Homo sapiens: one gene and its partners. The protein of the gene in region 1 purifies or fractionates together with the protein of each later gene. This does not show direct contact. Each region holds a gene or a part of one and is shown on either strand. Other genes may lie near its edges.

Region 1 (5,657 bases):
GATGTGGGCACCTGAAATGATCCCTCTAAAAGGCGTAGCCATAAACCCGACTCACAGAAAGCATTCAGTAAATGCCAGGGATTATTATTTCTTATTTGCATTCCTCACTTTAATATTTTAATCTTAAATTTTTAATATTTTAGTTTTTTTTTTTTAACTCACTTTTTTCTTAAGGAAAGATGAAAGTCTCAGAGACAGAGTAACTGAATGCAAAATGTCTGTGCTTTCTCACCTATAAAATGGGGATGGAAAATGACCTCCCATACTCCTGGGTTATTGGGTGGGTGGGGAGGGACCCTGAGCCTCAGAGGACCTGAGCAGCACCTTTGGGAGCCGCCCTCCTCTTGAGGGCAGAGAATGCTGAGCTCAGTCCATCTGCCCTCCCACCACCTGCAGATCTTCTCGCTGGGCTACTGCCCCACTGGGGAGTGGCTGGCTGTGGGCATGGAGAGCAGCAACGTGGAGGTGCTGCACCACACCAAGCCTGACAAGTACCAGCTGCACCTGCACGAGAGCTGCGTGCTCTCCCTCAAGTTCGCCTACTGCGGTGAGCCTTGGATGGGCCCAGGCCTGATGGAGTGGGGTGGGGAACCCAGGGCAGCCTGGCCCAACAGGACAGAAGAGGGGCCCAAAGCTTATAGAATAAGCTAGGCCCTGGAACCAGGCCTCCTGACCCCTGAGCTGGTGCCCCTTCAACACCCTTAAGTGATCTTGTTCCACATCCTTGTTTCTCGGATGCAGATGTCACCATGAGTTATTGAACTCTCAGGACACTAGGCCAGAGCCAGTTCTTGCAGGCTTGGGGCAAAGGAACAGGACAGTAGCAGTGCAGGCAGTTCCTCTCCATGGTTACAACCACTTGCTTTGGCATCTGAGAGCCTTGGATGGGAATGTCTGCTCCTCCACTGACAAGCTGTGCAGTCTTGAACATCTCACCCTCTCTGAACTCTAGTGGATTTTTCTCTCTGGTCGGGAATAGCATGGTGCTCATGGCTTTCAGGGAGCATAAGGGCTTTAACACTTGTAGAGCCCTGGCCGAGTTCCTGCTTGGAGGAAGGTCGCCCACTGACTGCTGTCTTCAGCCAGGTCTCCAGACTCCCAGGGCTTGGATATTTTCAGTATTTCCTGTTGCCTTCCAGTAGTAGAATTTAGAAAGGCCAGTCAACCTTAGTGGCTTTAACAAGAATCTTTTGAGGCAGCGTTATCACTGCAATGAACTTCAAATCCTACCTTTTCCCATCCTAGCCCCGCCCAGCCCTCCCCCTGGATTTCAGAGAAAGGCCTTCTCCAGGTGTCCGCATGTCCCATTTGCAAAATGCCTCTCGAAATTGGAGAGTTATACTAGTTAGCAGTTCTCACTGCTTTTCTATGGCAGCTGGCCATGTCTAGGGCAGGTCTTGCTTTAGAGGGCAGTGAGCTACAACCTGATCATGCCTTTGCCTCCCACCTGCAGGCAAGTGGTTCGTGAGCACTGGGAAAGATAACCTTCTCAACGCCTGGAGGACGCCTTATGGAGCCAGCATATTCCAGGTACTGCCCACCGTCTGAGTCCTCCTCTGGGTTCTACCCAGAGTTGAAACTTGGTGATGGTGATGGGAGTGAGGATAGCAGCAGGAAGAACAGGAGGAGCCTGGAGCCAGGATCAGACCTGCCCTGGTCCCCTCCCCACCCCTACCTGATAGGGGAGCAAGATTGGGTTCTCCCAAGGACCTGGGGACTTCAGCAGGACACACAATCTGCTACTGATGGCTTCTGACCCCCGAGGGCAAGGGCTTCTAAGCCGGGGCGCTTGTCGGATTTGGAGAGTGAGGAATAGCATAAGTGTTTTTGCTCTGGGCTGGATGCTGAGCACCTGCGGGAGGTGCGCTGGGCACCTGGGCACCCGGCAGCCTTGCCCAGAGCAGTGTTGCCTCCTCAAGTGAGTGAGTGTTTCCACCTGCATTCAGCACCAGCAGGGACATGGACAGGAAAGAGAGGAGGAAAGGAAGAGGCTTTTTATAATCTACCAGGATCTGGGGCCTGCCATACTGCACTGATTGGCACACACACGTGTGCACACACACACGTGCACTCTTTCCCATACACGATCAAACTCACACTCATTTACTCACGCACACTTGGTCTCCCCCACACACTTTCTTCCTCTCTCTCTCTTGCGCTTCCACACACACACTTGCATTCTCTCTCACTCCCTCAGCCAACATGCCGCTTTCTGGACCCAGGCTGAAATGTCTGGTGTGCAGCGTGTCAAACCTCATTGTTAGGGTCTCTAGTTACAGCACATGCTTCAAACATCAGGTGGCAATCCTTTTCCTAACTCATCAGGCTGTGGGCCTGAGCTGCTGACGCCAGCTCCTAGCTTGGAAATGCTTCTTCCTATTTGTAAACTCGGAGGAGAAGCTCTTGCTAAAGCGTCCTGTTCTGATCATTATGACTTACTGTAAAGATCACGTGGGAGACTGTTACTGAGCTTTTCCTTATGGAAAAGCAGGTGGGAGGGGAGCTCTACCTGAAAATGCTTCATGGGTGCTTTAAAGCCTCCCCCACCTCCTCTTCACCGCACTGTGCTCCAGGTCGGAGCATCAGAGAGGGGCAGAGGAGGGCAATTGTTGCCGAGAGAACCGAGATGGTGTTGAGCACTGGAAAATGAATTCCTGTCTTTTTTCTCCCTGCACCCCACGCCTTCCTGCTGCTTCTCCTCGTCTTCCTCCTCCAGTCTAAAGAATCCTCGTCTGTCTTGAGTTGTGACATTTCAGCGGATGACAAATACATTGTAACAGGCTCTGGTGACAAGAAGGCCACAGTTTATGAGGTCATCTACTAAACAAGAACTCCAGCAGGGCTGTCAAACTCTGGGAGAAACCGACTCGGCTCTGACAGGGAGACCCCCAGGCGAGGGGCCCCGAGGATGGCGGAGGATGGGCCGCAGGCAGCCGAGCGTTCAGGGCTGCGCTCCGGCCGGCTGAGAGGGCACGTGCCCCGTCACAGTCTGGACTCCTGGGCCTGGATTGATGTGTCTCACAGACTCGGAAGGGTTCTGCTCCTCCTCCTCCCCCTGAACAATGCTGGCAGTTGCTACAAATAGATTTATTGGAGGCTTATGGCTCCGGTTCCCCCACAGACCCGCTCATGAGTCTCTGTTTGTTCTTCCCTTTTCTTTTGCCCTGTCCCTCACCTTGGGTCGGGGGTGCTGGAGTGGACCACAATGTTGTGCTGGGGGATGGGGGGGTCTCTCTTTGCCGATTGTGCAGTGCACAAGATTTGTGAAAAATGTAAATAACAGACTCCTATTGCGGACTGATCAGTGGGAGAGGAGGCCCCTTCCCACCGGAAACTCTGAGTGTGTATTTCGCCTGCTGTATTTGTAATCCACTCGTGGTGGTGGCTTTTTTTTTTTTTTTTTTTTAAATAAACAGATGCTCTCACCTGGGAAGAGGAGACAGGGAGGGGAACCAATTGAAGAAAGAGGAGAAAAGTCTTAGAGTGTGGAAAAGGCAACCAGGTTGGCCGTAAGGTGCCTGCTGGAATGCGTGTGCCTCCACACGGGTCTGGGCATCCGGACTGATAACCAGCCGGCCAGACTGAGGGATGGAAGGCACTGAGATGGGGGCCCGTCCAGGCGGACACCCGCAGAAATGGAGCTTTCTGTGGTCTCTTGCACTCTGGCTGCCTCTTGCCCTCTCTGTGTCTCTCTTTCTTGGTCTCTCCCTCTCTCCTCCTCAGCCTGGTCTTTCTCTTTGGTGCACACTTAGTTATTGTTGTGAGCAATGGAAGTTCAAAGGAACTCCCTCTCCAGCTCTTCTGAATCTTGGGACACAGCCTAAAAAGGACAAAAAGTTAGAAGACAGCATAGCAACTCAGCTCAGGGAGCTACCAGAGAAAAATAGCAACTGATGTGGGTGCTTTTTTTTTTTTTTTAATTTGAATAAAAAGAATTAGAAGTGATGTCCTTTTATAAAATGCCTTCTCCCCCTTCCCGCCTACAGTCTCTTCCTCTCCCCTTAGAGGGGGGAAAGTGTATAAACCTACAGGGTTGTGAGTCTGAAAAGAGGATCCCCCTCACCCCCACCCTGGGCAGAGCAGTGGGGGTTGGGGGGTGGGAGAGGGGGACACAGATCCTGGCACACTGTGGATATTTCTTGCAGATTGCAGTCTCTTGTGGCCCAAACAGGTTAGGTAGACTATCGCCTCTGGCAGGTGCCACCTTTTGGTACCAACATGTTCTGAGGTGTTAGGATTTGGGTTGGGTTTTTTTTGTTTGTTTTTTTTTTCCTTTTGGTCTTTTTTTTTTTCTCCTTTTAAAGAAAAGCTAAAGGCCGCTGTGAGTCCTGGTGGCAGGCTCTCCATGGATGTAGCATATCGAAGATAATTTTTATACTGCATTTTTATGGATTATTTTGTAATGTGTGATTCCGTCTGCTGAGGAGGTGGGAGGGGCTCCAGGGAAAGCCACCCACCTTCAGTGAGGTTGCTCCCCAGCTGAGCGCACCGGGCATGGGATGTGGAGGCTGGCGACACACCCTGTGCCTCTCCAAGGCTGGGCGCGTGGGGCGTCCAGAGTCTCTCTGGGTCTCAGATGTCCATCTGCCACCTCTTGTTAAGGCTCTAGCCAGAAGGGAGGGTGAGGGTAGAAGAAAGTTATTCCCGAAGAAAAAAAGAATGAAAAGTCATTGTACTGAACTGTTTTTATATTTTTAAAAGTTACTATTTAAAGGTTGGTTTGATTGTTGCGTCTTAATTGCCTCTCCCCCCAGTTTGCCAGTCCCGCCCCCCGCCCCCCGGGAAAACAGCCAGGCCACTGTTGCTGTCACATTCTGGAGCCTGGGCCAGGGCCATTTCCCATCGATGTGAGCTCTTCTCATCTCACAGCATTCCCTGCGCTGCTTCCACCCCCTTCTCCCCTTCCAGATACCCAGCATCGCAGCAGGGATTTCACAATCCCATACTGTGTCGCCTCCCATCCAAGCGCCAGGGAGGGTGGGGGGTAGGAGCTAAGACTTCCTCTGGACAGATGGGCAGGGCAGAGTTCACTGAGGTGAAGGAAGACCACAGGTTAACACCAAAGTATTGTACAGCTGTCAATGCAAAACTTTTTTGGAAAAAAATTAAACGTAATGAACTTGAAGCGAAACTGCAAAGTGTCTGTGAACATCTGGACCTTGGAAACCTGCACAATTTTATTTTAAGCTTAACACGTTTAGGTGGGACGAGGAGATCTTCAATCTCTAGGTCACAAAGGTGTGTTTTTGGATGATACAGAAGGAAGCATTTGCAGAAGAGGCAGACCCAGAAATGCAGGTCATTGTCCCCAGGGAGGGAGTCGGGGGGCTGGGCGGGAAGAGGAGAATGCTGGTGCCCATTCCCGGGGCGGTCCCCAGGCTCTTGGATTTCATGCACCCATTAGCAAAAGCTCTCAGGGCACTGGAGATTAACATGGTTTCCAACTCCTTATTTTGTCAAAGTCATTCTCAGCACAAACAATTGCCTGCTGTCATTTCATACAAGAAAGGGAATCTCACATTTAAAAAAAAAAAGAGGAACGACAGTCTCAGCATAAAGCACAGTCTTTATGACTAGAAGGGACAACTGGCCTCTCTCCACACAGAGGGGTCATTTAGCTGGAGAGGGAGGTCCTCTCAGGCTTATGGAGGAGACAA
Region 2 (7,029 bases), on another chromosome or scaffold:
GAGTTAACTGGGAACAGTTTGAAAGAGAGTCCTGTGTTTGTGTTCCAGATCTTCTGGAAAAATCAAGAGTCACTTTCCAGCTGAAGGCTGAAAGAAGCTACCACATCTTCTACCAGATTCTTTCTAACAAGAAGCCTGAGCTCATAGGTGAGGAAGTCACCAGTGGGGCTGGTCTTTTAGGTAGTTTGACTCTGATCACTAGACCAAGGAGAGTTGTATCTACGTAGAGTGACTCTACAGTCAACAGGGAAAGTTTATTTTATTTTATTTATTTATTTTGAGATAGGGTCTCACTCTGATGCCCAGGCTGGGGTGCAGTGGCACAAGCACAGCTCACTTGTAGTCTTGACCTTTCTGGGTTCAAGTAATCCTCCAGCCCCAGCCTCCCGAGTGGCTGCGACTACAGGTGCATGCCCCCACACCAGGCTACCTTTTGTGTTTTTTGTAGAGATGAGGTTTCACCATGTTGCCCAGGTTGGTCTTGAACTCCTGGGCTCAAGCAATTTGCCCGACTCGGCCTCCCACAGTGCTGGGATTATAGGTGTGAGCCACTGCACTTTGCCAGGAAAAGCTTATTTTAGAAATGGGATGTGGCTATCTGGGCAGTGACATGCCAATTTGAAAACCTAATCAAATGGAGGGCAACAAGATTAGACCACTCCTGACCAGCTCTGGTTTATAAAAACCTTCTGAGCAACTGAACACCTAACTGTCCTTTGGCGCCCCCTTGTGTTCTGGCACAGAAACAACCTATGGCCAAATGCGACGCCAAAGCAAACAGAATAATCAAGCCCACGGAGGCACTGCACACTGCCCCTTGTCTGCCCCTCACAGAGGTCTCCATGCACACTGCTTCTTTGCTCTTTGGCTGTATTTGCTCAGCCTTCTGGTCTCCAGCTTGGAAACAGGCTGCTGCTTTTCAACAGATTTTAGAAAAGGCTATGATTATACCAAACCACCTGGGTTGGCTCTCGTCCTGACCCGCACTCAGCCAGTTTTCCCTATTAACTTCTCCCAGCCGACACTGATATGCACCATTAGCGTGCAAGGCAAGGGAATTTAAAGGTTCTCTCTAGGGTCCTTCATCTCCATTGTGTGGGAGACTGAAAAGTCTTCCCTGGACTATATTTTCCATGACAGCCTGAGTATTGTGGAACTGTCTAAAAGATTTTTAATTCTAAGTTCAATTTAGGATCCAGCGGTAAAAGTTCCAGCCCAGGGTGCAGGAGCTCAAGTCCACTGGGTGGGTTTTTTCTTTGCATCTGCATAACCTCCTGGAACTATTTGTCATTTCAGAGCTGCTGCTTATTACGACCAACCCTTACGACTACCCGTTCATTAGCCAGGGGGAGATCCTGGTGGCCAGCATAGATGATGCAGAGGAGCTGCTGGCTACAGACGTAAGTGGAACCAACAGAAGGGGTGGGTGTTCCTCCTCCATCACTGGGGCCAACTGACTGACGTGCTGCCCTTTCCATGCCAGAGCGCCATTGACATCCTGGGCTTCACCCCAGAAGAGAAATCTGGGCTCTACAAGCTGACGGGAGCCGTGATGCACTACGGGAACATGAAGTTCAAGCAGAAGCAGCGAGAGGAGCAGGCCGAGCCGGATGGCACAGAAGGTACAAAATCAGTGTGACAGCAAACCAGAGCGGGTGGCTGATCTGCTGAGGTCACTTGGTACTGCTTTTGAAAGCAATTAATCCAGCCAGGCACAGTGGCTCACACCTGTAATCCCAGCACTTTGGGAGGCTGAGGGGGCCAGATCACCTGAGGTCAGGAGTTCGAGACCAGCATGGCCAACATGGTGAAACCCCATCTCTACTAAAAAAAATTAGCTGGGCATGGTGGAGCATGCCTATAATCCCAGCTACTCAGGAGGCTGAGGCACGAGAGTCAGACAGAGTTTTGCTCTGTCATCCAGGCTAGAGTGCAGTGGCATGATCTCAGCTCACTGCAACCTCTGCTGCCTGGGTTCAAGTGATTCTCCTGCCTCAGCCTCCCGAGTAGCTGGGATTACAGGCACACACCACCGCGCCTGGCTAACTTTTTTGTATTTTTAGTAGAAACGGGGTTTCACCATGTTGGCCAGGCTCAAACTCCTGACCTCAAATGATTCGCCTGCCTTGGCATCCCAAAGTGCTGTGATTACGGGTGTGAGCCACTGTGCCCTGCCGGCATGAGAGTTTCTTGAACCCAGGAGGCAGAGGTTGCAGTGCACTGAGATCGTGCCACTGCACTCCAGCCTGGGCAACACAGTAAGACTGTCTCAAAAAAAAAAAAATGGATGGAAGCGATTAATCCTTCCATCTGGAGAAGTGAATGACCCTTTCTGGGCCTCCGATGCCCATAGCTATTGTTACCACTCGCTTTTCCTGAATCACTCGAATAGTCTTGTTTCAGATGCAGTGAGGGATGACCAGGGCTTTCTGAGACCCAGCCCTGGCTTTTCATAAAGTCCATTATATTCTCTGAGTGACTTAGCTTCCATTGGCCATGTATATGCAGTTTAGCCACAGGGAATGCACAATGTACCAAGATGAACTTAACCAACCTTTGAAACTTCTGGATGATTTTCAAAGCAGCTCTTCTACTTTTCTAAGCACTGTCCTTGTTTTCTTGCCAGTGGCTGACAAAACAGCCTATCTGATGGGCCTGAACTCTTCGGACCTCCTAAAAGCTTTGTGCTTTCCTAGAGTGAAAGTTGGGAATGAGTACGTTACCAAAGGTCAAACTGTGGATCAGGTAACAGCTTCAAGGCCGGGAAAGGGTGCAGGACCCTGCTGGCCACTTCCTTCATATCCAGTAGCTGATCTTTCCCCTGATAGGTTCACCATGCTGTGAATGCTCTTTCAAAATCAGTTTATGAAAAGTTGTTCTTGTGGATGGTCACTCGCATTAACCAGCAACTGGATACGAAGCTTCCAAGACAACACTTCATTGGTGTTTTGGACATTGCAGGCTTTGAAATCTTTGAGGTTTGTGTTACTTATATTCATATTTTCATATGGCTTCATATGAGGGAAATTGGTTTCATGATCCTAAAGGGAAGATAGCAAGATGGCGGCTGTCTTAGTTTCCTGTAAGAAACTAGATGGAGAGTGGATGGAATAGAGGAGCGGTACTTATTGGAAGGGTTTGTATTAGGGTTTTTTGTTTGTTTTTTTTTTTTGAGACTGAGTTTCACCCTGTCACTCAGGCCAGAATGCAGTGGCGCCATCTCGGCTCACTGCAACCTCTTCCTGAGTTCAAGTGAACCTCCTGCCTCAGCCTCCTGAATAGCTGGGATTACAGGCGTGTGCCACCATGCCTGGCTAATTTTTGTATTTTTAGTAGAGATGGGGTTTCACCATGTTGGCTAGGCTGGTCTCGAACTCCTGACCTCAAGTGATCCATCCGCCTCGGCCTCCGAAAGTGTTGGGATTACAGGCATGAGCCACCGCACCTGGCTGGGTTTGTATTATTTTAAAAGAGGAGAAGATGTCTATCAAGTGGAATTTTAAAGGACATTTTCAAATGGATAAAAGAAAAAAAATTAAATGCAATCACTGATTTAGGGACTGCCATCAAATAGATACAGAGAATTTGATAAGTTAATCACGCACTATTTTCTATAAATATCCCACTGGTTCTGTGTTAGACCGTGCATAGCCGCGGCTGGGCATGGTGCCTCATGCCTGTAATCCCAGCACTTTGGGAGGCTGAGGCAGGCAGATCGCAAGGTCAAGAGATCAAGACCATCCTGGCCAACATGGTGAAACCCCGTCTCTACTAAAAATACAAAAATTAGATGGGTGTGGTGGCGTGCGCCTGTAGTTCCAGCCACTCTGGAGGCTGAGGCAGGAGAATCATTTGAACCTGGGAGGCGGAGGTTGCAGTGAGCCGAGATGGTGCCATTGCACTCCAGCCTGGTGACAGAGCAAGACTCCGTCTCAAAAAAAAAAGAAAAAAAAAAGTGCATAGCCACTCATCAAAGTGTATATTTAGGTTTCCCAGGTACAAGACATACAGGTGAAAAAAACAGATGAGCTTGTAGTCTAGTAGAGAAGAAATAGAAGTCTATATGGCACATTGAAGAGTAACTACAAAATAAAGTACACAAGAGATGCCCAGACCTTGGGAACTCAGGAAAGGGAGAAACACCTTCTAATTGGAAGTTTACAGAAGACGCCAAGGAGGAGATGCGGTCTGAGGCAGGCCTTGAAGATTGTGATTGTATTTGAAAGCATTAATGTGTTTGACAGGAACCTGGGGCAATGAGGAGGAATGTTGACAGTCTTTGATTCTGAAAGAAGTCTAACTTTTCACATGAATGTTGTATTTTTTTATTAGTATAACAGCCTGGAGCAGCTGTGCATCAACTTCACCAATGAGAAACTGCAACAGTTTTTCAACCACCACATGTTCGTGCTGGAGCAGGAGGAGTACAAGAAGGAAGGCATCGAGTGGACGTTCATTGACTTCGGGATGGACCTGGCTGCCTGCATCGAGCTCATCGAGAAGGTATCCAGTTCCATCCCCACCGTAAGCTCTTCTCATAGACTCTTCTGCTCATTACTGCAGCTCATATTTACCTCTCTGCACTTTGCCTTGCCTTCAATCCAGCCTATGGGCATCTTCTCCATCCTGGAAGAGGAGTGCATGTTCCCCAAGGCAACAGACACCTCCTTCAAGAACAAGCTGTATGACCAGCATCTTGGAAAGTCCAACAACTTCCAGAAGCCCAAGGTGGTCAAAGGCAGGGCCGAGGCTCACTTCTCACTGATCCACTATGCGGGCACCGTGGACTACAGTGTCTCAGGTTGGCTGGAGAAGAACAAGGACCCTCTGAACGAGACTGTGGTTGGGCTGTACCAGAAGTCTTCCAACAGGCTCCTGGCACACCTCTATGCCACGTTTGCCACGGCGGATGGTAAGAGGAGTGCTTTGTGTCCATGTGATTTCCCTCCATTTGTTCCACAGTAACAAAAAACCTTTTAGATTCACCTACAGCACGTGCCCTCCCTTATTGCTTTCAGCTGACAGTGGAAAGAAGAAAGTTGCCAAGAAGAAGGGTTCTTCCTTCCAAACTGTCTCTGCCCTTTTCAGGGTAAGAAAAATACAAGTTTATTTGCTTATAATTGATTTAAGTGACATCTAAATGAGCAATGCTGAGATTCTAAGCTTGATTTATTTGAGAGTAGTAGTGTTGTCTTAATCTGATTACTGTCACTGAGGTGAAGTGACAGATGATAAAATATAATAAATACGGTCTAACCAATGTGCGATGAGAGTATCACTATTATCTTATACCAAAGATAGCTGAGTTGGCTTGTCCGAGTTTCCAGCATAAACTCTCCAATTTTCCTAAAGGACACCAGCAATAGACCTCACGCTCCCAGTGGATCCATCACCTGAGTTGATTTTAGAAAGCATTTTGTACTTGGCGAGCCTCTGGCTCACTGGGAGACAAAAGACAATTGTATCAGTTACTAGCCTACACCTCCAGCCATAGGACCATTGAAAGCCTGAGTTAGGCCGGGCACAGTGGCTCACTCCTGTAATCCCAGCACTTTGGGAGGCCGAGGTGGGCAGATCACAAGGTCAGAAGATCGAGACCATCCTGGCTAACACAGTAAAACCCCGTCTCCATTAAACATATGAAAAATTAGCCAGGTGTGGTGGCATATGCCTGTAGTCCCAGCTACTCAGGAGGCTGAGGCAGGAGAATTGCTTGAACCTAGGAGGAGGAGGTTGCAGTGAGCCAAGATTGAGCCACTGCATTCCAGCATGGGTGACAGAGCGAGACTCCGTCTCAAAAAAAAAAAAAAAAAAAAAAAAGACAGAGTTAAATCATTTCACTATACTTTAGAACTTATGATAAATTTTAAACATAGATCTTATTTCATTACAATGGATCTCTGTCTTCATAAAAACCTACAGTAGGATGGCAAATGTCATTTTTTTTTTCTCTTAGGAAAACCTGAACAAGCTGATGTCAAATTTAAGAACTACTCACCCTCATTTTGTGCGTTGTATAATTCCCAATGAAACCAAAACTCCAGGTGAGACACCTGCTGGCTCGCTAGGTGGTGCTCAGTTTTTAAGAAATTCTGTGTAAGGCTGATATCTCGCTTCTGTTCCCAGGGGCTATGGAACACAGCCTTGTTCTGCACCAGCTGCGGTGTAACGGTGTCCTGGAGGGCATCCGCATCTGCAGGAAAGGGTTCCCAAACAGGATTCTCTATGGCGATTTTAAACAAAGGTGTGTAATAAACATGTTCTATATGCTTGGGGATGAGATGTACGAACACTGGAATTTGAGAGGGAGAAAGATTCGTATGAAAAGACCTATTTCGAAAGAACAGATATGGACCTCCATGTAAACTGAACAATCTACCATTTGGCCAAGTTATATATATTTGTTTCTTCCATGTTTTTCTCTGGAATTTATCTGATATACAAAATGGCAGGAAAAGCTCTGACTGAAGAGTCAAGAGATCTAGATTCTAGACTGCTCTCTAGCAATGTGACTCCGAGCTAGTTCCCTCATCTCCTGGGACCTTGGCCTTCTGCCTATAGGAAGAGAGGCCTGAACTACATGTTCTCCAAGGTTTGTGTCTTTGCCAACAGTCTGTGATGATTTCCATGTCTACAATGCAGATACCGAGTGCTGAATGCCAGTGCAATCCCTGAGGGACAATTCATTGACAGCAAGAAAGCCTGTGAAAAGCTTCTGGCATCCATTGATATTGACCACACTCAGTACAAATTTGGACATACCAAGGTAATGCATCAGTTCTGACAGATGCTGGCCTTTTCGTCCTCTTGACACAGCTTCTCTAGGAAACTGACTCATGTCACCCTTCTGCCCCATAAGGTGTTCTTCAAGGCTGGCTTGCTGGGAACCCTGGAAGAGATGCGGGATGACCGCCTGGCCAAACTAATCACCCGGACACAAGCTGTGTGCAGAGGGTTCCTCATGCGTGTGGAATTCCAGAAGATGGTGCAGAGGAGGTCCAGCAGGGTCTTTGTTCAGACATGAGCTCT
Region 3 (7,029 bases), on another chromosome or scaffold:
GTGAGTTTAAGAACTTTTTAGTATAATAAAGTAGAAAATCACTGGCTTCTGTATTTTATAAGGTGAAAATAGGGGACATGGAGCACTATTATACAAATGCCAAACTAAGAAACAGGTTAATGTACATAATGGTGTTAAGTATTTACATATATGGTCCTATTTGTAATTTTTATACAAATAAAATATGACTTAAAACCCAATTTGAACTCATTTGGGGTATTATAATTTATTTATTCAGCTGAATTAATAGCTCCCCCCAAAGCCCAATGTGTTCCATAAAGTTTTTACAAATGAACTAATGGAAATTTGTATGTTTATATATTGTGTGTTTGTATATTGATGACCCATATAATGAAGTATTTGGGATAAAATTCAAGTAAATATTTGAAGTTTTCTCTATAAATGCTCCCTTAATTTCTTTTTAACTGACAAAAATCCACAGTTATAGCTTATAGATTCCTAAGTGTATCAACTGGCAGCACTTTACCAACTATTCAAATTAAATCTTATTTTAATAATTTTTAATAAAAGATTAATAAATGAAGCACAACCGAATTGATGCACATTTGTACCAGTTGAATATTTTTAACTGTCTTCAATTTACAGAACATATGAAAGTAATAAGACATTTGTCTTCTATAGGTTACTAAAGATTAGTCTTACCCTTCATGAGGTCTCATAAAACTTAATTCAGAATTCTTAAATGAGCAGTTTTTCATTGTTTTAGGAGAAATAACATCAGAAGAACTGCAACAGCGGTTAGATGGCGTCAAGGAACAACTAGCATCTCAGCCTGACTTGAGAGATGGAACGAATTACAGAGGTACTATGGAGTCCTTTCCATAAGGAACAGGCTTGATTGGAGCACTTGCAGAAATGAAATTCTTAGACCTTGTATAGTATGTTTGTCTTCAATTTTTTCCAGTTTTAATGTGATACTCATTCAGATAATATATATATGAGTAGTAAAGCAGTATGGTTAAGCAGTATAGGACAGAGGAATGAATGCAAAGATGTCTTAAACACACAGATTGCCTTCAGAGAGCTTTATGTAATAATATACAATTAAGTTAATTCCCAGCATGCTTCTTTTTAATCTTGGAATGTACACATTACTTTTTCTAAAGTGATATTACTTAGCTTCTAAAAATTTATATACAGAACCGTGTAGAAAGACTGAGTTAGGAAACCTGTTTTTGTTTCTTTGTTCTGTTTGATGGTTTACATATAAAAAGTTCTTATAAGGAAAGTACTATAAAAGAACTTCAAACTAAATGAAGTATGTAGAGTTAAAAGGAAAAGCCACTTTTGTGTTCCTCTTAACCAGTTCTACTTCCCTCCTCAGAGGTATTTATTAGTAGTTTCACATATTATATCAAAATCATTGTATTAGTTACCATGAAGTCTATGTAAAAACCCCAAAATGCAATGGCTCAATAAGCTAGAAGTTTCTTACTTACGTTAACAGTCCAGGGAAGGAAATCCTCTTGGAACCCACTCAGCTAACAGAATGATTCTACAACTGTGCTGTTCAGTACAGTAGCTGCTAGCCACATGTGACTATTTAAATGGAAATTAATTAAAATCAAATTAAATTTAAAATTTAGCTCATTCATACTAGCCACATTCAGGTGCTTAATAGTCACATTTGGCTAGTGGCTTCTGTATTGGACAGCACAAATACAGAACATACTCATTACTTCAGAAAGATTTATGGGGCATCACTGCTCCAGGGTACCATTTGTATGATCAAGGTAAGTCGCAACCATATCTAGGTTCTAGCTGGTAGGAAGGAGGTCCACGCACTAGCGTGAGAGTAGGATGTATCGCTTACTCTCCCATTCCATTCATGAGAACTTAGTCTCATGGTCACACCTAACTGCCAGGCTGTCCACGAGCCAATTTCCGATGCTTTTACAATGGAAGAAGAGTAGGGTAGCTTTGAGTAGGTACTTGGCAAACTCTTTCACATGCACCATCATCACTACACTTAATCAAATGTTAATCAAAGAAGGAAGTAGCATTTAAAATAATTCATGTTCACCTGCCTTTTACTCATTCTTTTTCCAAACAAATGGGAAGTGGACATTAACACATTTTATTATTTGTGTTTAGATATGTAAGTTGTACTATATAGATGCAATAATTAATACTGATCTTTTGAATATGTTTCAGTGGAAAATGTACTCATCAAATATAAAATAGCTCATCATCTCTGGAATATGGCTCAGTTGCTGTTTATTTTATTGGCATCAACAGCTGATTAATAGCTTCAACTTCAGCATTTAAAAAAGTCTTACGAGAGAGATTGCAGGAATGAAATGAAATCAGAATGATGTCATATAATAGCTATTTTATTTATTTGTTTATTTATTTTTTGAGACAGAGTCCTGTTCTGTCACCCAGGCTGTAGTACAGTGGCACAATCTTGGCTCACTGCAACCTCTGCCTCCCGGGTTCAAGCAATTCTCCTGCCTCAGCCTCCTGAGTAGCTGGGATTACAGGCGCACGCCACCATGCCTGGCTAATTTCTTTGTATTTTTAGGAGAGACAGGTTTTTACCATGTCAGTCAGGCTGGTCTCGAACTCCTGACTTCATGATCTGCCTGCCTTGGCCTCCCAAAGTGCTGGGATTACAGGTGTGAGCCACCGCGCCCGGCCTATAATAGCTATTTTTGAGTAGAACAAACTTTAAAGTTGAAGTTTGTGTAGTTAATGTGTTGATGCTTTTTATTAAGTTTTGTACTTTATATAATATCTACTGGTTATAAATGGAAAATTTAAGCTTGGCACAGTGGCAGTATCTTAGTCAAAAAAGTTTATGGGTGACACATTTCTAAATTGATTAATTGAGCAATATTAATTGAAAGTCTGATTTATACTAGATACTGCTGTAGAGGCTGGAGATGTAACAGTGACTAAAACTACAAAAATCTTTGTTTTCCTGGAGCTTACGTTCTAAATGAATAGAAAATGTATTTTATTATGTATAACAGCTAACATTTATGGGGTGGCTTTTTATGTGCCAGATATTATGCTAATTATGTTATATATAGCGTCTTATTTTATCCTCAGGATAACCCTATGAGATTGATTCTATTATTAACTCCAGTTTATAGACAAGGATCAGCCATAGAGACCTTAAGTAACTTGCCTGGTTTCTCAGCTTCACACAAAGACAAATACAGTAATGTGGTTTTAATGTTATATTCAGAAACTCACATTTCTTGATGTGTACATTTTTGGCAGCACCTGAGAAATAGGAAAAATTTCTAAGATTACAGAAATACCTAGTTGCAAAAATGACTGAGTTGGCTTTTCCAGAAAGATTCCACAAATACAGGACAAATTTTACATAAAGTTTGTCTTTGTATTTTATTGATATTACTATATTGATAAAGCAATTTAAATGTAAACTTTTGGTAGTGGACATGTTTCTCATTTGCCTTAGTATTTTGCTAGTAATGGGCAGATAGAAAGTAAGAATGAGGATTTCTCCATAGCGTTGCATAAATAGTATTTAAAGCTTTGTAACTATGTAAATAGTAATTTAATTTTTATAATATGCTTATAGTAGATATACTTTTCTTTTAGAAAGTTGTCTTTTTGCCATCTTTCATTCATTAAAATCCACAGATGTTCTTTAATTTATTACAAACTTTGTTTTTCTTACAAGTTTTCAATAAAGCTGTAAGGTGTGTCTTAGGAATTGATCTTAAGTTGATTTGCTTTGCTTTCTAGACTCAGAAGTCCCTAGAGAAAGTTCACATGAAGATTCTCTTCTAGAATGGTTGAACACCTTTCGGCGCACAGGAAATGCAACTCGAAGTGGACAAAATGGGAACCAAACTTGGAGAGCTGTGAGTCGAACAAACCCGAACAATGGAGAGTTTCGGTTTAGTTTGGAAATCCACGTAAATCATGAAAATAGAGGATTTGAAATTCATGGAGAAGATTATACAGACATTCCACTTTCAGATAGTAACAGAGATCATACTGCAAATAGGCAACAAAGGTCAACTAGTCCTGTGGCTAGGCGAACAAGAAGCCAAACCTCAGTGAATTTCAATGGTAGTAGTTCCAACATTCCAAGGACTAGGCTTGCTTCAAGGGGGCAAAATCCAGCTGAAGGATCTTTCTCAACATTGGGAAGGTTAAGAAATGGAATTGGGGGAGCAGCTGGCATTCCTCGAGCTAACGCTTCACGCACTAATTTCAGTAGTCACACAAACCAATCAGGTGGTAGTGAACTCAGGCAAAGGGAGGGGCAACGGTTTGGAGCAGCACATGTTTGGGAAAATGGGGCTAGAAGTAATGTTACAGTGAGGAATACAAACCAAAGATTAGAGCCAATAAGATTACGATCTACTTCCAATAGTCGAAGCCGTTCACCAATTCAGAGACAGAGTGGCACTGTTTATCATAATTCCCAAAGGGAAAGTAGACCAGTACAGCAAACCACTAGAAGATCTGTTAGGAGGAGAGGTAGAACTCGAGTCTTTTTAGAGCAAGATAGAGAACGAGAACGCAGAGGTACTGCATATACCCCATTCTCTAATTCAAGGCTTGTGTCAAGAATAACAGTAGAAGAAGGAGAAGAATCCAGCAGATCCTCAACTGCTGTACGACGACATCCAACAATCACACTGGACCTTCAAGTGAGAAGGATCCGTCCTGGAGAAAATAGAGATCGGGATAGTATTGCAAATAGAACTCGATCCAGAGTAGGGCTAGCAGAAAATACAGTCACTATTGAAAGCAATAGTGGGGGCTTTCGCCGAACCATTTCTCGTTTAGAGCGGTCAGGTATTCGAACCTATGTTAGTACCATAACAGTTCCTCTTCGTAGGATTTCTGAGAATGAGCTTGTTGAGCCATCATCAGTGGCTCTTCGGTCAATTTTAAGGCAGATCATGACTGGGTTTGGAGAACTGAGTTCTCTAATGGAGGCCGATTCTGAGTCAGAACTTCAAAGAAATGGCCAGCATTTACCAGACATGCACTCAGAACTGAGTAACTTAGGTACAGATAACAACAGGAGCCAGCACAGGGAAGGTTCCTCTCAAGACAGGCAGGCCCAAGGAGACAGCACTGAAATGCATGGTGAAAACGAGACCACCCAGCCTCATACTCGAAACAGTGACAGTAGGGGTGGCAGGCAGTTGCGAAATCCAAACAATTTAGTTGAAACTGGAACACTACCCATTCTTCGCCTTGCTCACTTTTTTTTACTAAATGAAAGTGATGATGATGATCGAATACGTGGTTTAACCAAAGAGCAGATTGACAATCTTTCCACCAGGCACTATGAGCATAACAGTATTGATAGTGAACTAGGTAAAATCTGTAGTGTTTGTATTAGTGACTATGTAACTGGAAACAAGCTCAGGCAATTACCTTGCATGCATGAATTTCACATTCATTGTATTGACCGATGGCTCTCAGAGAATTGCACTTGTCCGATCTGTCGGCAGCCTGTTTTAGGGTCTAACATAGCAAACAATGGGTAAGGTGATGGGATCTACTCAAATACTGTTTTTTAGTAGAACTGAATGTTCAAGCATTGTTTTGCTGAGTTATTTGTGATTAGCTAACCAGGATGAAAAATAACAGATTATATATAGTTTGAACTATTTTTCGTGTGCTTTTTTAAACTTGTTAAAAAGAAATTTATATAAAATTTAAAATACAAATGTTAAATTATCCAGAAATACAGAATAGTTAATATTGCTAGAACCAAATAACCTCTAAAATGTTTTTATTTTGGTAATTTTGTCATGCTAAGCACTTTTGTATCTGCACAATTCAGTAGGTTAAGAATCAATCTTCTTTTTCTTAATAGTACAGCAGACTTTAGCTTCAAGTTTCATAGGCTTAGTACTTATATCTAGACATTTGTGTCTAAATAAGCTTTTCATTAACTTTTTATTTTAAGGACAGTATCTTTTCATGAAAGAGTATTTGGCTGAATGTTTGCTATATATATGTTACTTGAAATGTTAAATTTAATATGCAGCATACCATAGGTGTATATATAGGTATATAATTTTAAGGTTAAAATATTCAGTCTACAAGTTTGGTTCTTATTTAAGCTTTTGGGCTAATACTGCATATGGCACAATGTTTAATATTGGCAAGTTCATCTCAGAGAAAGGGGATTCAGATATAATTTTAAAGTAGAGATAATTTACTGAAGCGTCTCTGACAATCTAACTTATTAGACAGCAAGCAATATATAATACTGAAAAAGTATTCAGAAATGGAAAATTTACATCATATAGGTTATTTAACTTGTGTTCAGCCTTTTTGTAACTTTTTTGAAAGTGCAAACAATTCTTTGGATTATTAAATAAGGTATACAGTATGCATGGTTTCTCAAATTTAGTTTTAAAATCTAAAAGTCTATAAAGAATCAGATGCATAGGCAATATGTTAAGTTCACTTGGAGGCTAAAAATCTCCAGTGAAAACAAAACGAAAACCTTTAAGAGAATGTAGAGTTTATATAAACACAAAGTATGCATTGAAGATCTGTTTCTACCAATAAACATTAAAACAAAGACTGTATGTGAACTATGTTTTTCTGTTGTTCCACTGTGGTTTATTCACCCTCCACTAATATTTCATACTAGATGCCAGGCAGTGTTATGGGATAGAGTATTTCCCAGACGACAGACAAAAGTCCCTGGCTTCATGGAAAAGACATATTTGCTCTTAGAAACTGAATATCAATTGATAAAGTGAATTATTATTCTTACTTTCATATTTGCTTATTAATATATGACAGGATTTTCTTGTGGTGATACTGTTTGGGCAAAATCACAAGAACAGTACTTAGGCCAGATTCTGTGAGATTTAGAAATATCTCCACATTTAATTTTCCTTTCTGACTGGTGACTATGTTCAATTCATTAGGTTAGATGCATGCCCAGGAATGTTAAGGAGTGCATTTACATGGAGTAAAAGGTTTTCATAAAAGTTGTGACTTTGTTTGGAGTAAATTATTTATGTAGGTCAGTTTGAGGATCTA

The links.
Region 2: the proteins of TLE3 (region 1) and MYH3 purify together in Homo sapiens (affinity purification with mass spectrometry; 2 studies listed by BioGRID and IntAct, with this or other methods). This does not show direct contact.
Region 3: the proteins of TLE3 (region 1) and RNF6 purify together in Homo sapiens (affinity purification with mass spectrometry; 2 studies listed by BioGRID, with this or other methods). This does not show direct contact.

The regions. Positions count from the first base shown.
Region 1 is NC_000015.10:70,047,264-70,052,920, reverse strand, and holds the end of TLE3 (transducin-like enhancer protein 3), read left to right. Parts: intron 1-396; coding exon 397-547; intron 548-1,453; coding exon 1,454-1,530; intron 1,531-2,573; coding exon of another isoform or gene 2,574-2,636; exon of another isoform or gene 2,637-2,710; intron 2,711-2,716; coding exon 2,717-2,824; 3' UTR 2,825-5,131; downstream 5,132-5,657. UniProt on the Homo sapiens protein: Transcriptional corepressor that binds to a number of transcription factors. Inhibits the transcriptional activation mediated by CTNNB1 and TCF family members in Wnt signaling.
Region 2 is NC_000017.11:10,640,300-10,647,328, reverse strand, and holds part of MYH3 (myosin-3), read left to right. Parts: intron 1-48; coding exon 49-147; intron 148-1,296; coding exon 1,297-1,400; intron 1,401-1,483; coding exon 1,484-1,622; intron 1,623-2,626; coding exon 2,627-2,745; intron 2,746-2,828; coding exon 2,829-2,978; intron 2,979-4,332; coding exon 4,333-4,503; intron 4,504-4,605; coding exon 4,606-4,912; intron 4,913-5,018; coding exon 5,019-5,089; intron 5,090-5,956; coding exon 5,957-6,044; intron 6,045-6,126; coding exon 6,127-6,244; intron 6,245-6,642; coding exon 6,643-6,766; intron 6,767-6,859; coding exon 6,860-6,996; intron 6,997-7,029. UniProt on the Homo sapiens protein: Muscle contraction.
Region 3 is NC_000013.11:26,212,305-26,219,333, reverse strand, and holds the end of RNF6 (E3 ubiquitin-protein ligase RNF6), read left to right. Parts: intron 1-727; coding exon 728-823; intron 824-3,741; coding exon 3,742-5,510; 3' UTR 5,511-6,559; downstream 6,560-7,029. UniProt on the Homo sapiens protein: E3 ubiquitin-protein ligase mediating 'Lys-48'-linked polyubiquitination of LIMK1 and its subsequent targeting to the proteasome for degradation. Negatively regulates axonal outgrowth through regulation of the LIMK1 turnover.